2 linked regions of the Homo sapiens genome follow. The protein of the gene in region 2 interacts with the protein of the main gene of each other region in a biochemical or structural test. Each region holds a gene or a part of one and is shown on either strand. Other genes may lie near its edges.

The links.
Region 1: of the proteins of PTPN12 (region 2) and INSR, one has a biochemical effect on the other in vitro, tested with the Homo sapiens proteins (one large-scale study listed by IntAct).

Annotation. Positions count from the first base shown.
Region 1 is NC_000019.10:7,114,090-7,116,414, reverse strand, and holds part of INSR (insulin receptor isoform Long preproprotein), read left to right. Parts: 3' UTR 1-2,325. UniProt on the Homo sapiens protein: Receptor tyrosine kinase which mediates the pleiotropic actions of insulin.
Region 2 is NC_000007.14:77,627,795-77,631,294, reverse strand, and holds part of PTPN12 (tyrosine-protein phosphatase non-receptor type 12), read right to left. Parts: intron 1-3,500. UniProt on the Homo sapiens protein: Dephosphorylates a range of proteins, and thereby regulates cellular signaling cascades. Dephosphorylates cellular tyrosine kinases, such as ERBB2 and PTK2B/PYK2, and thereby regulates signaling via ERBB2 and PTK2B/PYK2.

The DNA of each region.
Region 1 (2,325 bases), on a different chromosome or scaffold from region 2:
TGTGTGTCCATTAGACACGGCTGATGTGTGTGCAAAGTATCCATGCGGAGTTGATGCTTTGGGAATTGGCTCATGAAGGTTCTTCTCAAGGGTGCGAGCTCATCCCCCTCTCTCCTTCCTTCTTATTGACTGGGAGACTGTGCTCTCGACAGATTCTTCTTGTGTCAGAAGTCTAGCCTCAGGTTTCTACCCTCCCTTCACATTGGTGGCCAAGGGAGGAGCATTTCATTTGGAGTGATTATGAATCTTTTCAAGACCAAACCAAGCTAGGACATTAAAAAAAAAAAAAGAAAAAGAAAGAAAAAACAAAATGGAAAAAGGAAAAAAAAAAAGAACTGAGATGACAGAGTTTTGAGAATATATTTGTACCATATTTAATTTTTAAAGTCTCTGGTATTAGCCTCATAAGTTATTGACTATTCCCCGGGGTTGGCGGGGAGTGGGGACATGAGTTGGTCTGCCTGTTGTGGGGCCGGGAAGGGGAGGGAGTCAGGCACAAGTGGCCTCTTTGTTTGGTCTTAAAGGCATCCATTTCTGGGAATGAAGCCATGTTCGCTGCTAACACTTTTGGATGTTGTGAGGCCACGTGGAGTGTGTGAGAGACTAGGTTTTATGGATGGTCTGGTTCAGGTACCAGGTCTGCTGGAAGGTTCCTGTTCGGATAAGCTGGTAGCTACCTAGCTCTGAGCCTGCCTTCAAGAACACCTGTGTTCATCCTCTGATTCTCTGTGTGTACCTCTTGTGGCGTTTCCTCTCCCGGGTGTGAACATCCTAACCGTTATTGTGCAAACCCAAGAACGTCAGATCCCAAAGCACAACAACCTGGATGGACTTTGGGAACATCTAAGCAATGTAAGAGAGAGGTGCACTGAGAGTACGTCTTGGTCCCCTCCACCCTGAGAGCATCTGACGGTCCTCAGTACTGAACTCCCGGAAGCTGCTCTGAGCCCGGTGACCTCATCTGGGCCAGGTGTGGTGCCTGAGCTGAATGCTCAGGTGCTTACAGTGTTGCAATCCCTAAGAGAGTAGAGTCTGGAGGAGAAACCGTGAAAAAGACCTTACACACCACCAAGAACTTCCGAATGGGCGTGAATCCACCGTTTCTTCTCTTTGCAAAAAGAACCACCACAGCTGCTCAAAGAACACAGTGAACTCATCACTTTGGTTCATCAAAAAATCATCGCCCATGCGTTATTCCTGAGTGCATTTTCTTACAACTTTTTGACTGCTTCCTTTTCTTCTTCTCTTAAGAGTTGTGGGCTTAAGAATGGGATAGAGTCATAATGGCAACCTCCAAGCCCTCTCAATTCTTGATTAAGAACACAGGTAGACATGAATCCCAATTGTCTATTGCTATCTTATTTATATGATTCGGGAAAATACAGCATGTAAAAATATTGCTGAGGAGCCTCAGTGATTGGGTACAAGAAGCAAGAGTACAGAAATTATTTTTGCCAAATTTATTTTGTAAATATGAGGGTCTGTACCTAAATTTAAAAAAAAAACACGTAGAACTAGGTATTTTGTTCTCTTCTTAGTAAATTTGTAGTGGTTGTATACTACACTAGCTGCAATTTTCACATTTTTCTAATTCAGAAAGGTTTTTCTTATATTAGGGGAAAAAGTATTTATTTTAATATATAAAATCACTCTGAAAATCACTCTCATAAAAAATGGAGCGCATGTAAATTTTTATCAAAGAAAAATAAACAGGTGAATGGGGGATAGTGATTTTCTTTTTTCAGCACAGTCTACCTCAGTGTATTGTTAAGATGTGATTCAATCATGGACATCTTTGAGATTTCAGAATTCTACCTGGAACCGGTCTGAATCAGGGAACGTGTGTATCAGCTGATTCGAATGCCAGGGACCAGTAAGAATTTTGAGGGAGGGAGTTGGGATGGAGAAGGTATGGCCTTTATGCGAGCATAGATCCTTTTCTTCCTGGCTGGTAATATTCTTCTCTGAATTTAATCTTCCTTTAAAAAAAAATCCTCCATCTATTGTCACTATGTTCCCCAAACATAAACTAAGTTCCAGGCTGTCATGATGTATCTGATATATGGGGTAACCCAGCAAGGTGTACCTTCCTTTGGTGAGAGATGGCTGCCGGGGCAAAGACGGGCTTTGATTCAGAGCAAGCATTCCCACCTGTTCCATGGAATCCCCCTGAAGTGAGCACAAAGGTGCCCTGGGCTCCCTGATGGTTTATGCCCACTCCTTTCAGGCTGGTGATGCACCTTACACACAAACACCTAATGCAATGTCTTTTTAAATTCTCCAAGTGGGATGGGAGCATGTGAGGGAAATTCCAATCCAAAACCC
Region 2 (3,500 bases):
GCAAGAAAATACAGCTTCTGGGTCCTCCTGAAAGAGGAGTTCCAGTCCAATACTTGATACATCTACCAAGAGTACCAGAACTCTCTCTTGCCACTAAAGAACTATCTACCTTATCCAGTAGTGGTAGTCTGAGTCATCACCATATGTCTCCTTGCCCTCTTGCTACTAACAGCGCACAGTGAAGAGATGGCTGTTGGAAGGAAGGGACACATAATCTTGGCATTCTGGTACCATTTCTTAAATTAAATGAACAAAACAAAAAGGGCAGTTCAGCCCTTTTTCTATCAGTTATCTTCCAGAAACTCTGTGCTTTTTCTCTCATGGCAGTTCTCACCCTTAAAAACTTTTATTTTCTAAGCGTGGCCCTTGCTTTGCAAATGCATGTTTCTCCCTGGAACTTTGGGCTGCCTTTCCTGTTAAAAACTTTTGTTTTAGAGGTTATCCAACCAGATATTGCGTATTTTATATAGGCTTTTGCAAATCATACACTGTATGGGGCCTTCTGTAGTTGAATCTGAGAAATCTTTCAGGAGGCCTAAGTCAAGACTGAAATTAGAATTGATAGCTAAGAATTTTTGTCAGGCAGTAACTTATGCAAAAGTTTTTTTTAGGTATCAATACAAAAGTATTCCATTATAGTCATGCACTACATAATGATGTTTTCATCAACAAGACCGCATAAACAACAGCGGTCCTGTAAGATTATGATACCATATTTTTACTGTACCTTTTCTATGTTTAGATACACAAATACTTACCATTGTGTTACAATTGTTGAGTATGGTAATATGCTATACAAGTTTGTAGCCTAGGAGCAAGAGGTTACATTGTATGGCCCAGATGTGTAGTATATACTATACCATCTAGGTTTGTGTAAATACATTCTATGACATTCACACAATGGCAAAACTGCCTAATGACATATTTTTCTTAGAACATATCCCTGCCATTAAGAAATGTGTGACTGTAATTCACTAACAAGTTCTAGGACCAAAAAACCCCCCAAAACTCTAATTCTGGTGCCAATGGCTCTATAAGATAATGATCTACAAAGGAAATAATAATCTATAAGGTAAATAAACAATCTATAAAGTAAATAATCCATATGGTAAATATTTGGCAACACATTAAAAATGAGACTACTTGTAGTTATGCTGCAACAAAGAACATTTACACACAGGAAAATCTTCGGTTAAAATCAAACCAATAACATAGTTAAGGTTGAGTAAAAAGAAACCAGAAATCACATGTATAGTGATTTTTGCTTTGAAATACAAAACCAAACAAACAGAAATGAGCTGGCACATAGTAGGGTGCTTTTAGCTATATCTTACTCTTTTTTTTTTTTTTTTTTTGAGACAGGGTCTCCCTCTGTTGCCCAGGCAGAGTGCCGGGACGCAATTATGGCTCACTGCAGCCTTGAGCTCCTAGGCTCAAGTGATCTTCCTACCTCAGCCTCCAGAGTAGCTGGGACCACAAGTGTGCACCACCATGCCCGGCTAGTTTTTTATCTTTTGTAGAGATTGGGTGTCACTATGTCACCCAGACTGGTTATGAACTCCTGGGCTCAAGTGAACTTCCTGCCTCAGCCTCCCAAAATGCTGGGATTACAGGCATGAGCCACCAACAGACTCGTCATGTAGTAGTAACTTTTAATAAGCATATCACATCATACATCTTTCTGGCCCTCACCAAATCCTATTTCCAGTAATGGTTTTTTGGTTTTTTTTAAAAAAAAAAGCAAAAGAACAAAACAACAACAAAAAAACAATAAAACTTCCTAGGTACAATACCACATGCTTGATATACTAAAAACTCAAAATGAAAATTTCTTATCTACATATTTTCTTATATAGTTACAGCTGGGCAGTTATATTTCAAATTCTGAAGCTGAGGAACAAAAGACATTAGCAATTTAAAATTATGGTAAACTGGTAAAGTAATATTATACTATTCATTATCTTCTAAAGATCCTTCAAATAAAACAAAGATAAATCAAGAAAAGATAATTCTGTAATTTAAGCAAATAGTTTAAGACTGTCACCTGGCTGGGCGTGGTGGCTCACGCCTGTAATCCCAGCCCTTTGGGAGGCCGAGGTGGGCGGATCACGAGGTCAGGAGATCCAGACCATCCTGGCTAACACAGTGAAACCCTGTCTCTACTAAAAATACAAAAAATTAGCCAGGCATGGTGGCGCATGCCTGTATTCCCAACTACTAGGGAGGATGAGGCAGGAGAATTCCTTGAACCCAGGAGGCGGAGGTTGCAGTGAGCCAAGATTGCGCCACTGCACTTCAGCCTGGGCAACAAGAGCAAAACTCTGTCTCAAAAAGACTGTCATCTAGTCTACCAAATACACTCTCTCAAGTTAAAAAATACAGTATGTGTGAGAGAAAATACAAGCACTACAGTATGGGTGGTATATAATGGGTCAGAAATAGAAAATAATCTTTCAAGGCCAGGTGTGGTAGCTCACGTCTGTAATCCCAGCACTTTGGGAGGCCTAGGTGGGCAGATCACTTGAGGCCAGGAATTTGAGACCAGCCTGGCAAACATATCGAAACCCTGTCTCTACTAAAAACATAAAAATTAGCTGGGTGTGGTAGTGGGTGCCTGTAATCCCAGCTACTTGGGAGGCTGAGCCGAGATCTTGCCACTGCACTCTAGCCTGGGTGACAGTGCAAGACTCAAAAAAAAAATCTTTTGAGTGCAAGTCTCAAAAAAAAAAAAAAATCTTTCAAGGTCACAGTACTTATTTTGCCTGCACGTTATAAATACCAGTCTGTATGTGTCACTACCAAAGTTCACTGATAGGTAAGTGACCACTGATAATCAATATATCAATAAACAGCTTTCAAATTTATATGTTTACTCTCAACCTTAGGGTCTGTTTAAGATGGTAGCCATCATTACTTTCAGCAGATCAAAGAGGAGTTTCAAGAAGCAATAATACACTTTGGGAACTGAGTGCATGCATTATCTTGAAATGCTAAGAGTGCTAAAAAAATAATAATTCTTTAAATAATAGCTTTGATGAGTAGGTATGCATATAGCCCACTCACTACTGAATTGAGCAGTTTGCAGTATTGTTCCTGGGTTAAACTCAGGGTTGGAAGCAGCCATATTTGGAAGCATTTGTGAAGACAGTAAAAACAAACAAACAAAAAAATGTAATCTGTAGTTAAAGGAACAGTAAAAAATGACTAAACATTTAGGAAAAACGAGTAACATTATATGGCCAATCAAGACATTCTACAGTATTTTTGCCACTGTTATTTTAAGTGATTCTTCCCTAAATTATTTCTAATTATTCAGTCAGATAAATTTTTGACCGATACAAAAACACTAAGATCTATAATACAGAAGAAAAAGAAAATAAGTTATCCAGTTATAACTACTAAAATAATTTAGAAACACAAAACCCAGTAATATAATGTGACCAAATTGTTAACAATACATTAAAAGCTTATATTAAAAAATTAGTATCTAAGACAGATTT